Linked DNA regions of Homo sapiens. The protein of the gene in region 2 interacts with the protein of the main gene of each other region in a pairwise test. Each region holds a gene or a part of one and is shown on either strand. Other genes may lie near its edges.

What was found. The genes of interacting proteins can lie anywhere in the genome.
Region 1: the proteins of LIMK1 (region 2) and BMPR2 interact in a two-hybrid assay, tested with the Homo sapiens proteins (one study listed by BioGRID).

The regions. Positions count from the first base shown.
Region 1 is NC_000002.12:202,561,074-202,569,104, forward strand, and holds the end of BMPR2 (bone morphogenetic protein receptor type-2 precursor), read left to right. Parts: 3' UTR 1-6,676; downstream 6,677-8,031. UniProt on the Homo sapiens protein: On ligand binding, forms a receptor complex consisting of two type II and two type I transmembrane serine/threonine kinases.
Region 2 is NC_000007.14:74,085,696-74,093,803, reverse strand, and holds part of LIMK1 (LIM domain kinase 1), read right to left. Parts: intron 8,057-8,108; coding exon 7,960-8,056; intron 588-7,959; exon of another isoform or gene 555-587; coding exon of another isoform or gene 505-554; intron 1-504. UniProt on the Homo sapiens protein: Serine/threonine-protein kinase that plays an essential role in the regulation of actin filament dynamics. Acts downstream of several Rho family GTPase signal transduction pathways.

The DNA of each region.
Region 1 (8,031 bases), on a different chromosome or scaffold from region 2:
TCTTTTACCCTGTTCCCAAGCAAAGACTGGTGACTTTATCTGAAAATGATTCCTCTTCCCATGACCTAAAACACTGTGAGGAAAAATCATTCAAGTGGCATGCCAAGTCCCTATGAAGGAAGGGCTGCTATCAAACCTACCTTTTTTGAGCAAACTGAGACTAAACTTCTCTCTTTTCAAAATTGTGTTATCTTCCTTAATCCTATTTTCATAATTTTTCCTTTTGCCAGTTTTTCACATTATCTTTGATATGTGAGCAACATTTATTATTTACATTAGAGTATACCTTTTAGTAATAAAATGACTTGAAATCATATTATTTTTAAAAGCCCTTTGCTTCTTTCATTACTTATAATCTCCTCTAAAACAACCTCTGCATGTTTTTTTTAAATAAAGCACTTTCTGTCAAATAATGGACTTTTTTCTAAACAGAAATTATTTTCTATTAATTTGCAAACTGATGATTTCACTTTTTTTTACTTTTTTTTCGATTATCAGAGTACTTAGTAAATGTTATATAGTTTAGTTCTAAGATAGTTCCAGGGATTAAAAGGTTAAGAGGAAAACACAAATCACCAAATTTCTGATTTATGTTTTTATCTCCTGAACAATATTTTCTCACTCATATTCCTCTATCTTATCACTTAGCTAAAGACAGCCTAAATTTCCCAATTTTCTGTCCAAAATATTTGTGATTTACTTGTATATAAGCCTTCTCATTTGCCATGTGCTGTGATCTTACAAGTTAGATGTTACTATACCTACCATTTATTCAGCTGGATTGCTGAACACAGTTCTGGATTCATAGAATTAAGAATATCTTGTTAGTGCCCAGGATTTCCACGTTTTGTGTTTTATTGGCCCTTTTCTTTATTCAGCCCCTTAATCTATTTTCAGTCTTCTGGCACGTAATTTTTTTCACAGTTATTATTCTTCTATTAACAAATTATTTTTATCTTTCCTAGTACATTTTCACTTAGTTCTCTTGCCCTTAAATATCTTTCACATGCATTTTAGGATATTCTTTTCAAATATTTGTAGGACAACTTTGAATCAAAATAAATTATGTTCCTTCTCCAATTTGAAGCATTGAGGATAAATGACCATTTGAGGTCTAACTGATCTTTTCCTGCCAGAAGAGTTATCTTACGTTCTGCTATATTTGTATTTGGGCCAGTTGATTGTAGGTTGTCCAACATTTTTTAATATTGGGAAAATTATGATAAAATGCTTTAAAAATTAATATGCCAGATTAAAATAACTGAATAGTTTACTATTTCATTCAAGCATGTTTAAAACAAATAATTTCCTTTCACCAGTTTTTCTTAGTAAACTCCTGAAAAAGTAGGAAAGGTGGAAAGTATATATCATTTTTATAAATTTTAAATTGTACATCAGACTTTTAAAATCTGTAATATACAAGCAAGCAAAATTATTTTAAATGACTTAATTGTATGCTAATACTCATCTGATAATAAATGCTTCTTAAAGTTGACATTTAACTGCTATCACAAAGTTTTATATGTAGAAAAGTGGGGTCCTTTTGAATAAAAGATCATTCAACTAAAAATATTAAAATTTATTTCACTGGATGGTAATGTAACCTTAAAAGCATCATAATAGGTAAAGTCTAATATTAGTTCCCTTAACAAAATCCTAACTGTATACCAGAATTAGGTCACTGAAAGAACTTGATTTGAATTACGTTTAGACAAAAATGATTTAATTGTAAATTCTTAAAACTTTCTAAATGCATAATTGGCAAAAAAAAAAACCCACTGTTACCAGTGTAGGAAGTTACAAGAAGGCACATACTGAATGCTGAAGTATACATATGCTATTTCTCTTAAACCTCAGAGCAACCATATGAGCATTGTAATTAATATTCCCATTTTACAGATGAGGAAACTGAAGCTAAGAGAAGCTAAGTAATATGCCCAAGGTCCACATCTAGTAACAGACAAAGCTGGGATTTCAGTCTATGTCTGCCTCTCTCCACATCTCTTTCATCCATACCACACTGCCTACATGCCATATGACAGGATGTGTAATGGGCTAACGTTTATTTAAAAAGTTCAGGCCAGGTGCAGTGGCTTATGCCTATAATCCCCGCACTTTGGGAGGCCGAGCCGGGTGGATCATGAGGTCAGACGTTCAACACCAGCCTGGCCAAGATGGTGAAACCCCGTCTCTATTAAAAATATTTTTTAAAAATTAACTGAGCGTGGTGGTGGGCGCCTGTAGTCCCAGCTACTCAGGAGGCTAAGGCAGGAGAATCTCTTGAACCCGAGAGGTGGAGGTTGCAGTGAGCTGAGATCGCGCCACTGCACTGCAGCCTAGGCGACAGAGCAAGACTGCCTCAAAAAAAAAACATAAAAATTCAGTCACTATACTCTGGCACAATTTTCATTTGTATATGAGCCAAACCACATACCTTAATGATTTGGGAAGTTAGGCAAATATGAGATATGTAGACATATCTATGCTGATTGTTGCTTGAGAAATAATTACTAATTCTAGACAAAACTCAATCCTGTATCTTCCATCATGAATCTTAAAATCATTTCACTTCACTCCTAACATTTCTTACATTGCAGAACTAATGGTAAAGTAAATTTTACGGAAAAAGTTAAGATAGCTTTGGGAACAGAGACCTTTCCCTAAATTGATTCCATAGCAGATTTGGGGGAATTAACAAAGAATTTCAGTCTCATCAATCCTTTGAATCCATCTTCAAAACTTCTGCTTTTAATAACTTTAGAAAATTTACTAATCTATAGAACTAATTGAGTAGGATATAGGAAGGATACAAGGATATAATGTCCTTTTTATAAAAGTTTAGTATAGCTTCTTTACATGTATCCACTTGTTCCAGAAAATGTGCATTGGTTCTGAATGTGAAAATATTTAAAGAGAGAAAGGAACACTCAAGTAAGTGTGGGCTTCAGTGGGAATTATCACAAAACATTGGCAAGTATTTTTATTTAAATTATTTTCAAATTTGACTTCTACAGCCAAGTGGAATTGGTAGGCTGTAGCTGTTACACTGAAATTTCTAGTCTTTGTAAGTGCCTCCTGAAAGTCATTTAAAATGGAAAAATATTTCAATGAGCTTTTCCTTTTTTCATATTTATGGACATGAATATTTTATTGGAGATCATTAACTCCTAGAATTTGAGATTATATTTCCATACAACATTTTATAAAGTTATGTTGAACTTACTACCTGTTATGTGCAGGTTATTATGTAACTATTCACAGATTGCTTCATATATTGCTTTATCTTCCCATCTAACTTCTTAAAGTTAAAATCCGGACACACATGTTGATTATCTAGACCAGTCATTCTGGAAATTGTAACACTCCCACATAAACCCCAGGAGACTTTTTCAGAATGCAATGTTTCTAAATGTACTGTTACTGGCAGTTTACTCTCCAGCATATAAGGTTGCATTTTAACTTTTAGATTATGAACTGTGCAAACTTTACCCAAAACTATCTTGCATGATTCCCTCCTAAATATATTCCTTGATTAAGTAAATCTGGCAAATCACTGTTTGAGCTAGTTACATAAAATTTGTTATCAAGAGAAGGCTTTTCTACAAGTTTCCAGATTAACATAAAGAAAAGAGGGAATCACAGGGCATTTAAGTGCACCTTCCCATTACTTTCCTTAAATCACCTCATAGTTAGGCTGGGCGCGGTGGCTCACGCCTGTAATCCCAGCACTTTGGGAGGCCGAGACGGTGGATCACGAGGTCAGGGGACTGAGATCATCCTGGCTAACACGATGAAACCTCATCTCTACTAAAAATACAAATAATTAGCCAGGCATGGTGGCACGCGCCTGTAGTCCCAGCTACTCGGGAGGCAGAGACAGGAGAATCGTTTGCACCCGGGAGGCGGAGGTTGTTGCAGTGAGCCGAGATCGCGCCAATGCACTCCAGCCTGGGCTACAGAGTGAGACTCCATCTCAAAAAAAAACAAAAAAAATCACCTCATAGTTTATGTCTGACTTACTCCAAACCTCAGTTATCTGATTTGTAGTCTGTGTCAGGAAAGTTTTCTTCATATCTATTCTGTCTCCCTCCTCTTTGATTTTAAATTTTTTTCTTTTACCCAGTAGGACAAAAAAGAGCAGTTGGTCATCATCCCCAATATTCTTAGTCTTCAGTATGCTTCAGGCCTCTCAATGAACACTTAAGTCTCAATTCTTCAGACAAAATTGCTTAAGCTCTTCTCCTCAGTCCTATTTTAATGACTTTATATTTAAGAATATAGAATTATATTTTCTTTTATATTCAAATTCATTACTCCAGTTAAGTAATAGTTTGATAGTTTGATAGAATCGAGAGTTAAGATGTTTCTATTTGAAAGTGGATTCAACCATCAGACCACCAGCAAATCGGCACTTAATTTTTGTGTTATCTAACATTTTCTATTGTGGAATTTTATGATTTTATATTCTCATTAGTTATAACTAAAAAGCCATGCACACAGAATTGTATATCATTTTGCCATTAAAATTTTTTAACATATTGCAGCAAGCTTAGTTTTATGATTGAGCCACAACCTTTTACATATTTTTTGTATGAAATATTAAACACTAAATGCAAGATTAACTTTCAAAAGCAAACCCTACATTAATCAGGTATTATCTATGGACATTTTTGTAGACCACTTTTGAAATACTTATTATTTTGCAACATAGACTGGACTATACAACTTTCATTTAACTTTTAGGTGACTGATTTAAGTTGAGTGTGCATATAGAGAAAAACCTAGAAATTTATCTCATGGCAGATACATTTGAAAGTACTTCAGAAGAATTTATGCTGTATATTAAAACTAGGCTCAAAATAAATCTATCGTATCTTTAAAAGTCCAATTCTGTTATTACTGTGATGTTTGTAGTGTTACTATTAAACATTGTGAACATACACATTTTTAAAACAACTTGAAACCCATTTTAAAATCTGGGTAAGAGAGAAGGAATCTTCAGAACAAAATCACATCATTAGGGTGTCCAGTTTATGATTGAATTTTTAAGCAAATTACTGTATTTGAAACTACAACTTGATTTGGTTTTCAGTTTTAAAAGGCAACATGTGGGTTTTATCCATTTTATTTATACCTTTAGATTTCAGAAACATCTTCATGTTTTAGATGCATTCTACAGACATCATGTTACTTAAAAACTCAGGGCCCCTTTCATCCCTTTGTACACTGAAAAAGTTCAATTGTTAGCAAGTAAGCAATTAGATCCAGTTGAATATTTAAAGTGTTTGTTGCACAGTTCATTTAATGTTTCATCTTATTTGACTTTTTCACATAGATATAATATCAGATTTCATTAATTATAAAAAGTTGCCCAGTTCTGTAATTACTGAACAGAGGGAATGACTCAACTAATTGGCTACATGTTGCAACAAATTTAGGCCTTTAGAGTTGAAGCACTGACTTAAAACGACTTACATTTCTGTTCTTTGGTCAAATGACCATACATGATATGGGACAAATTGTTTCATTTTGTTTGTTTTTTAATAAGGGAACTTGGTAAAGTAGTTCCTGTCAGATAGGATTTTCTCAAGAGACAATTTAACGTTATAAAGCCTTCTAAAAGTGAACTAAATATTTTATAACTTTAGTAATAGCTTGGATGGTTTTGAGAAAATAACCTGTATTTATCACATTGTCAAACAGAATTTTTCTTTGAATCAGACAAGTTCAAGCTCTAAATTGATGTGCTATATACTTAAAATCCTAGGAAGTTATCTGTAACCAGTCTCTTGTCTCAGGCTCTTCACCTTGTTACCAATCCTCGTAAGTATGTAAAGGAAACATATTTTTAAAGAAGCTTAACAGTAAGAAAAAATTACTAAAAGATGCAATTCAAAGATAGGTCCCAGTTTAACACTGAATTGCTTGACTTCTGTGGCTTTTCTTTTTCTGGCCACATTTATTTATTTAAGCAATTTTTGTATGCCTTGTTATTTCATTTCCATAGAGATTATATTGTATCAGTGTTTATGTAAGCTGGAATCATCCTCAGTTTTTTGCTGATAATTTTTCAAATAAAGATACATGGATAATTGTAAAATACACTAACTCTTAGGGTGTTGTAGTAGCTGAAACATGGAGATGCGTAGCTGTCATGCTTTTTCTGAATGGACAGGAGAAACATAAGCTACGGAGTATTCACTTCTGAGGATGCTTTTCCGGAAAAAGAAAGGCTAGAAAATACTCGCACTTCCTCAGAACCCTCTTTCTTGTTAACGGGTATCTTTTGTTGGTGTGTTTTGCTCTTACATTACAGATAGACTATCATATATGACTTTATGAATAATTTCAGTTATTTTGCTTTTGTATAAGCTGTCTGAAGCCTTGCTATGCTGTATAAGTTGTGTTTGATGGATCAGTGTGAGTATAAAATAAAGCAAATCACTTTTCTTTTGTATTATCTATGGATGCCACTATGAAAGCTGACATTAAGCCACTAAAGAGTTTTCTATGAATAAGTGTAAGTAAATGCTTTGATATATATAAACCTAAATAAAAAGATTGTATTGATACAGAGACATTGGAGAAGGAGATTTTAAGGCAGTTCTTTAGGTTTAAAAAGGCTTGCTGTAAAATGGTGCGTTATTCCGTTTATTAAAGATCATATTAATGACAATAGTAATTGTGTTTTTTTATTTTAAGAGGTCACCAGAAATTGTTAGTATGATAATTAGGGAGTTTGCACTAGAATAGTAAATGTTCTATCTAATATGACTTTCATAACTCAGTATGATACATCAAAAAATAAAAAATAAAAAAAAATAAATAGGCCGGGCGTGGTGGCTCACGCCTGTAATCCCAGCACTTTGGGAGGCCGAGGTGGGTGGATCACGAGGTCAGGAGATCGAGACCATCCTGGCTAGCACGGTGAAACCCCGTCTCTACTAAAAATACAAAAAATTAGCCGGGCGCGGTGGCGGGCGCCTGTAGTCCCAGCTACTCGGGAGGCTGAGGCAGGAGAATGGCGTGAACCCGGGAGGCGGAGCTTGCAGTGAGCCGAGATCGCGCCACTGCACTCCAGCCTGGGCGACAGAGCGAGACTACGTCTCAAAAAAAAAAAAAACTAAATTTAGTATAATAGTTGCTATTTTCTGACCATGTATTATATGCCAGGCACTGTGTTAGTTATTTTACATACATTGTTGATAATTCTCACAACAATCCTACATAATATGTATTACTATCCCCCTTTTATAAATGAAGAAACTGAAAGAGAAATTAAATACTCTGCCCAGTCACAGAACTGGCAAGTGAGATTGTAACGCATTTTACGTTTTGCTTTGAACTGCAATTTTCAAGCTCTCCTTGTGGCAAGAGAAACTCAAAAATAAAAATAAAACTGGCCGGGCGTGGTGGCTCACGCCTATAATCCCAGCACTTTGGGAGGCCGAGGCAGGTGGATAACGTGAGGTCAGGAGTTCGAGACCAGCTTGACCAACATGGAGAAACCCCGTCTCTACTAAAAATACAAAATTAGCTGGGTGTGGTGGTGCATGCCTGTAATCCCAGCTACTCGGGAGGCTGAGGCAGAAGGAGAATCGCTTGAATCCGGGAAGCAGAGGTTGTGGTGAGCTGATATCGCACCATTGCACTCCAGCCTGGGCAACAAGAGTGAAACTCCGTCTAAAAAATAAACAAATAATAAAAACAGTTCAGTAGTTAGAGTAACCAGGAATATTCATGGAGTAATTTAAAGGTGCAGAAAGCTATCAGGTACCAAAACAGCTATTTTTATTGGCCTAATATTGTGTTTGTGCTTCACATCATCAAATAATCTTTTGGGTTGGATCTAGTATTTTAAATAGAAGGCCTTGTTAAAGCAGAATATGAGTTTGTGAAGGCACACATTGTTTGTCTCCAGATTAATTCAATGTGTTAGCGAAGTGTCCTGGAGCAGGATCTCGTGTCAATCCATGGGACAACTATCCTTAAAAGGGTGCTGGGCCACTTTTACCTATATGCCTAGGGAAC
Region 2 (8,108 bases):
TGCGCCAGGTACTGAGGCTGTGCAGAGCTGCCCTGGGGACAGCCAGAGAGGAACTCCCTCGGGGGAGAGCCATGCCCTGGCCCCACTCCAGGGTACCCCTCCCTGAGAGCAGGGTAGGACAAAGCCAGGCTGGGGCAGGAGAAGGGGGAGGCACCCGGAGGGCATGAAAGGGGTGCTCTGCAGCCCAGGTGGCTGGCTGGGCTGGGAGACAGCGGTGGCTTCCATAATGACAGGAGTGGAGAATCATCGTTCTACCCAGGGCCACATCCCTGGCCACCAGGTGTGAAGAAACAGCAGGTGGAGGACCGGCCTCATGGGGAGACTGTCCTGGAAGGACCCACAGCTTTGGCAGTGGCCTGCTCCCAGGCTGCAGCCGACAGTAACCAAGGAGTTTCAGTTCTGCCCCAGAGCCTGGACCTAGGTGGGTCGGCTTCCAGCCCCAGGCCTTACACCAGGGGCCCTGCCTGGAGCCCAGGACAAGTAGGGAGGGGGATTCCCACTTACTTAGCCCTCTGGAGGAAGCGGCGTCTTCTTGGGGCTGAAGCCAACAGCATCCTCTGTGGCTACACTGGGGGCTCTGGAGGTCTAAGGGAGGGCAGGGGTGGCCAGACCAGCTGCTTCCCCATCCTCCCTCAGGGGCTCAGGATTGGAGGCTGCAGAGGGTGGGGCCAGCGTGGCTGCAGCGCACAGGAGGAGGCTGCAGCCGCGTGGGTGCCAGGGGACTTGGTCTGAGCCTGCAACAGGAAGTGGCTGAAGCACCCTTTGCCTGGGCTTTGGTGCGGGTGGGGAGCGAGCGATCTAGGCTTGGACCCCAGGCAGGGAGCCTGTGGCCCGTCCCTGGCCCTCAGTCCTGAACACACGCTGTAGGCTCCTCAGCCTCGGCCCTGGCAACGGCACTGAAGGCCTCAGGCTTCTCTGGGGACAGGGACAAGCTCAAAAGCAGCTGCCTCTTCCACTGCTGCCCCCAAGGGAACAGAGGTCGACTTCCTATGGACAGTTTGTCTTCGCCAAAAAGGTCCCCTGAAGAAAGGGAGGTTGCATCCCGCCGCTGCTCCAACCCCACAGGCCAGCAGCATGCTCAGCCCTCCTTGCCCAGGGCCAGCCCACCCAGCTGCCAAGGAGATGCTACCAGGGATGCGGCAGCCCTGGGGGTTGTGCACAGGAGGCTTCCTGGAGGGGACCTCGCAGAGGCAGTATGTGAGCCAAAGGGAAGCCTGGACCAGTCCAAGCCTGGTCATAACCTTCCGGGAGGCAGGGCCTGCAAGGGGCTGGGAGGTCAGAACACAGAAAGGGGCAGGCCCCGGAGTGACAACCCTCAGGGCTAATACCAGAGGTCCCATGGGCCTGCAGCAATTGTCCCACTCTACAAAGAGGGGCAGCATCTGGTCCCGGCTGAGCCCTCCAGCAGCCTGCAGGCCCCCATCACAGCACTTATGACCCTGTCTGTCCTATCAGCGTGGGACTTCCTCAAGAGCAGGGGCCAGGGGACAGGAGCAGCTCTCAGATGCTCAGGTTATGACATTCAAAGATGCACAGCTGCCTGTGCGCAGTGGCTCATGCCTGTAACCCCAGCACTTTGGGAGGCTGAGGTAGACAGATCGCTTGAGGTCAGGAGTTTGAGGCCAGCCTGGCTAACATGGTGAAACCCCGTCTCTATTAAAAACACAAAAATTAGCCAGGTGTGGTGGTGGGCGCCTGTAGTCCCAGCTACCAGGAAGCTGAGGCAGGAGAATCGCTTGAACCCGGGAGGCGGAGGTTGCAGTGAGCTGAGATCACGCCACTGCACTCCAGCCTGGGCAACAAAAGCGAGACTCTGTCTCAAAAAAAAAAAAAAAAAAAAAAAAAAAAAGCTGTACAGCCAACGGCACCTTCCACGGGGCCCACAAGGCTCTATGCACCCCTGGCCACTGACTGCACTCCCGCACGCTGGCTTTGTGGTCCTCAGTTGTGCCAAGCACATTCCCACCCCAAGGCCTTTGCACATGCACCGGCCCTACCCCCGACATCCTCTAAACACTGCTCCCTTCAATTCTGTCCCTTAAACATCACTTCCTGAGAGTGCTGTCCCCCAATACCTGACACTACATTTGTTCACTGAGTGTCTTGCCCACTAGAAGGCAGGGACCCTGTTGGTCTGGGAGGTGTGGGACTAAGCTGTGGTTACACTGTAGGCTCTGAAGCCAGGCTGCCTCGGTTCGAGTCCTGATTCTACTCCTCACGCGCTGTGAGACTTTTGGCAAGTGACTGAACTCTGCACCTCATTTGTAAAATCGCTTTTTAAAAATTTGAGACAGTGTCTCGCTCTGTTGCCCAGGCCAGAGTGCAGTGGCGTGATCACAGCTCACTGCAGCTTCGACATCCTGGGTTCAAATGATCCTCCCATCTCAGCCTCCTGAGTAGCTGGGACTACAGGTACGCACCACCACGCCTGGCTAATTTTTTTGTAGAGATGGAGTCTCACTATGTTGCCTAGGTTGATCTCAAACTCCTGGCCTCAAGCAGTCCTCCTGCCTCAGCCTCCCAAAGTGCTGGGATTACAGGCGTGAGTTACCAGCCTTGGCCTTAAAATCGCTTTAATATTGCCGGGCACGGTGGCTCACGCCTGTAATCCCAGCACTTTGGGAGGCTGAGGTGGGCGGATCACGAGGTCAGGAGATCGAGACCATCCTGGCTCACACAGCGAAACCTCGTCTGTACTAAAAATACAAACAAACAAAAAAAAATTAGCCGGGTGTGGTGGTGGGCGCCTGTAGTCCCAGCTACTTGGGAGGCTGAGGCAGGAGAATGGTGTGAACCCGGGAGGCAGAGCTTGCAGTAAGCCGAGATTGCGCCACCGCACTCCAGCCTGGGCGACAGAGCGAGACTCAAAAAAAAAATCGCTTTAATAAATAAATAGCACCCCCTTACTGGGTTGTTGTGAGAGGGGCCTAATGCAGAGTGGGCACGCCATAATTATTTGCAAGTGACTGACTCAGGGACCCTAGGAAGTTCCACTGGGAGGGGCATGCAGAGGGGCCAGGAAAGTGGAAATCACTGGCCACCTCCCCAGTGGGGCTGGAGGCTGCAGACCCCTCATGGCCTTATCACATTGCCCCTGCCCGAACACCTTCAGAGGGGTGAGGGGCCCTGGAACAAAGGTCTCAGTGCATGAAATGAGGTCTGGGCCGGGCCCAATGCCTCAAGCCCAGGGCCCGAGGGAGACTAAGCAGAGTCTAGCACCTTGGGCATCCCACTGAGAGCCAGCCTGGCTGTGGTCAGCCATGCACCCAGGTGAGCAGTGACCCCCTCTGAGCTGCTCTGCTCACTGTCACGCGGTGAGGACCACCAGCTTTGGGGACTGTTGGGAGTATCACACCCACAAGCCACGAGGTAGAAGCCATGGCTCTTACTTCTAGTGGATCTTTCCCCATATTGAGACTTTTTTTTTTCGAGATGGAGTCTTGCTCTGTCACCCAGGCTAGAGTGCAGTGGCGCGATCTTGACTCACTGCAATCACTGCCTCTCGGGTTCAAGCGATTCTTCTGCCTCAGCCTCCTGAGTAGCTGGGATTACAGGCGCCCACCAACAGGCCCGGCTAATTTTTGTATTTTTAGTAGAGATGGGGTTTCACCATGTTGGCCAGACTGGTCTCAAACTCCCGACCTCAGGTGATCTGCCTGCCTTGGCCTCCCAAAGTGCTGGGATTACAGGCGTGAGCCACTGCACCTGGCTTCCTTCTTGAGTTTCACTACACCAGGGACAGCACAAACATGCCTCCTCTTTACTGCCCTGACCTGGGGACTCACCCCTCTCCTGGTGAGTGATTTGGGACAGGCCACTCCAAAGCCAGGTACACCCATCCTGTAACACGGCTTCCCTCCTGTGGCTTCTGTGGCTCTACTCCTGACCCTCTCTCCATCACCCAAGGCTCCATCTCCCCCCTCACCGCAGACACAGGGGTCCCCAAAGTTCTTCCCTTCATTCGTCTTGGCCCTATCACAAATCCCACTCACCATCTCAGGGCCAGCTCCGAGGCGGCCGTTTTTTCTGACTTTCCTACCTCCAACTGGACTCAGGCTCCCATGGCTAGCTCTGGGCAGGACACAGCCACCATGGATAGCCCATGTCCCCTCCAGCTCAACACAGATGAGCATGTCTCCTCCCCAACATGACCCCCAATTCCATCAGAGTCAACAAACCACCAACTCCCCAGTGCCCAGGTTAGAAAACCAGATGGCTTCAGGTTCCACCCTGCCATTCGCCAGTGCCCATGCCCTCCCCGAAGCCCCTGTCTTTTTCTTTCTTCCTTTCTTTCTTTTTTTTGAGATGGGATTTCACTCTGTCACCCAGGCTGGCTTGCAGTGGTGTGATCATAGCTCACTGCAACCTCCACCTCCCAGGCTCAAGCAACCCTCCCATGTCAGCGCCCTTGAGTAGCTGGGACTACAGGCACCACCACCATGCTCAGCTAATTTTTTTGTAGAGACAAGGTTTCACTATGTTGCCCACACTGGTCTCAAACTCCTGGGCTCAAGAGATCCACCTGCCTCCGCCTCCCAAAGGGCTGGGATTATAGGCATGTGCCACCGCCAGCCCCTGCCTTTCCTACTCTGTGGCGATGTGGAGTGAGAAGGTTTTAGTCCCAGCTCTAGATGTTACAACCTTCAGCGAGGCACTTGATTGCATGGAATCTCTGTTTCTCCCATGCAAACTGGGCACATACAGTCCCTCATAGAGTTATGATGAAGATTTAACAAATTAGCATGAAGAGTGCTCAATGCATGGTAGCCAATATGACAAATACTCACCAAAAACTGTCCCTTCTGCCTGAAATTCTCTCCATCCTCAGTCACTGTCCCAGGTCAGGTCCTATGAGCTCAGACCCTTGAGTTACTGGGACAGTCCCTTCCCTGCCTAGATACCACCACCGGCCCACTGGGATGGCATTCTTCAACAGCATGTCACCCCAGCCCCTCCCTGGCTTTCTGCCGACTCCCTTCTATTTTTTTTTTTTTTTTTTTTTGAGATGGAGTCTCGCTCTGTCTCCCAGGCTGGAGTGCAGTGACGTGATCTCAGCTCACTGCAGCCTCCGCCTCCCAGGTTCAAGTGATTCTCCTTCCTTAGCCTCCCGAGTAGCTTGGATTACAGTCATGTGCCACCATGCCTGGCTAATTTTTGAATATTTAGTAGAGACGGGGGTTTCACCACGTTGGCCAGGCTGGTCTCAAGCTCCTGGGGTCAAGTGATCTGCCTGCCTCGGCCTCCCAAAGTGCTGGGATTACGGGGATGAGCCACCACCCCCATCCTGACTTCTGAAACTCCTTATCTTGGCATTCAAGGCCCTTCACGAATCGGTCTCAACTTTGTTTCTTGTTGGATCCCTCAGCTTATTCTGTTCCTTCCAAGGGAACTGTTCCTGTTCCCTCAGCAGTCCGCACCATCCCACCGCTGTGCAGATGGTTTCCTCTGCCTGTTGAGAGCCCTCTTGCCCCCCGAAGGCCTCTTTCTGAGCACCTGATGCAGAATCCCAGGGCATGCTGTCTGTCTCCTTTCAGCCACACTGAGTGTGTTCATTTCACTCACTGGCTGTGTGACTTTCATCAAGAGAATTAACCTCTCTGTGTCCCAATTTTCTCTCTGGCAAAACAAAGACAGCACTAATATCTAACTATGCAAAGTACTTAGAACAGGGGTTGTCCCTTACTGAATGTTAGAAAACGTTAGACGTTATTCCTAAAAAAGAAAAAACAGGCTGGGCATGGTGGCTTATGCTTGTAATCCCAGCACTTTGGGAGGCTGAGTCAGAAGGATCGCTTGAACCAGTTGGAGCTGGAGGCTACAGTGGGCTATGATCTCACCACTGCACGCCAGCCTGGGTGACACAGCAAGACCCTGTGTAAAAAAAAAGAAAAGAAGAAACAAAAAAACAAACCGAGGCCAGGTGCAGTGGCTCATGCCTGTAATTCCAGCATTTTGGGAGGCTGAGGCGGGCAGATCACTTGAGGTCAGGAGTTCGAGACCAGCCTGGCCAACATGGCAAAACCCTATCTCTACTGAAAATACAAAACTTAGCCGGGCGTGGTGGTGCACACCTGTAATCCCAGCTACTTGGGAGGCTGAAGCAGGAGAATCGCTTGAACCTGGGAGGCGGAGGTTGCAGTGAGGAGGGATCGCGCCACTGCTCCCCAGCCTGGGCGACACAACAAGACTGTCTCAAAAAAACCAAAAACCAAAAAATAAACCAAGGCAGAAGCCTAAAATAAAGTCCTAGTGGTGGATGTCTTGACCCCTGCTGGGCATCCCAGAAGCTTCACCTTCTACCCTTTTATGGAGTTTTCTCCCCTGAACCTTGCTGTTTGGTGACTATGCCTGTAATTCTCTCCCACACCATTTGTTTTTCTTTCTTTCTTTTTTAAAAATTGAGACTGGGTCTCGCTCTATTGCCCAGGCTAGAGTGCAGTGGTGCGATCATAGCTCACTGCAGCCTCCACCTCCCAGGCTCAAGTAACCCTGCCACCTCAGCCTCTTGAGTAGCTGGGACTACAGGCATGCGCCACCACGCCCGGCTAATTTTTTGTATTTTCAGTGGAGACAGGGTGTTGCCATATTGCCCAGGCTTGTCTCGAACTCCTGAACTCAAGTGATCTGCCCACCTCAGCCCCAAAAAGTGATGGGATTATAGGTGTGAGCCACCACGCCCCACCTCCACTCTACTTTTCTACCCAGGAAATCTCACATCCTTTGAGACCCCTGCTCTGGCCCTGCTCTGGCTCAAGGCAGGTAGACCCCTGCTCCTGGCTTCTCAGGATGGTCCTACTGGGTGACCTTCAGGTCCTCATGTACTCTTTATCCTCCGCCACAACCCTGACCCTACTTTCTTCCTACCTGTGGGTGTGTGTCTGGACACTGGGGCTGGTGTGACTGGGTTATGCATGTTCGCAAGCAGCCTGGAAGACACTGAGGGTGGCCTGGTTTCCCTTAAGGCCTGGTTTGTCTTCCCTCCCTGCAAGAGCATGAACACCCAGAAGGCAGGAGGGACATTCCTTCCAACTCTTCCCCCTGTCTGGGTGCCAGCAGGGGGCTGAATTGCAGGCACTGGCTCAATTGGAGGTCTCTCCCATCCTCTCTAAGATTTAGATCTCAGAGATCTAGGATGACAACAGAGGCCAAGGCGTTAGCTCACGCCTGTAAGCCTAGCACTTTCGGAGGCCAAGGCAGGAGGATTGCTTGAGGTCACAAGTTCAAGACCAGCCTGGGTCTCAATAGTGAGACCCTGTCTTTACACAAAATTTAAAAAATTAGCTGAGCATTGTGGTGTATACCTATAATCCCAGCTACTCGGGAGGCTGAAGTAGGAGGATCACTTTAGCCCGGGAGATGGAGGTTGCAATGAGCCGAGATGGCACCACTGCACTCCAGCCTGGGCAACAGAGCAAGACCATTTCGAAAAAAGAAAAATACATAAAAGAAAATAAAATGAGGCCAGGAGCGGTGGTTTATGTCTGTCATCCCAGCACTTTGGGAGGCTGAGGTGGGAAGATCACTTGAGGTCAGAAGTTTCAGACCAGCCTGGCTAACATGGCAAAACCCGTCTCTACTAAAAATACAAAAATTAGCTGGGCGTGGTGGTGCACGCCTGTAATCCCAGCTACTCCAGAGGCTGACACAGGAGAACTGCGTGAGCCCAGGAGGAAGAGGTTGCAATGAGCCAAGATCGCACCACTGTACTCCAGCCTGGGTGACAGAGCGAGACTCCGTCTCAAAAAGAAAAAAAAATAGATAAATAAAATGACAACAGGAAGGCCTGTAGGGATTTTCTAGTCAAAACACCTCATGTCATAAATGGTAAATTAAGGCCACGAAGTCACAATAGGGGACGGCACCAGGAGGCATATCCCGGCCTCCCCCATTCCTTGACCAGCCTGTCCTCTCTGGCAGGCCTTGTTTAGGGCAACACAGGCCCTGGGCACCCCACCCTACCTGAAGCAGTCTGCGTGCCAGTCCGCGTTCAGGGCCTGGAGGTACTGGCCATCATAGATCCTCTGGCCGCAGCTTGCACACACGGGCAACTCGCTTCCTGCAGGGTGGGAAGGGAGTTGGGAAGCATTCTCAGGAAGTGTGATCTGGTG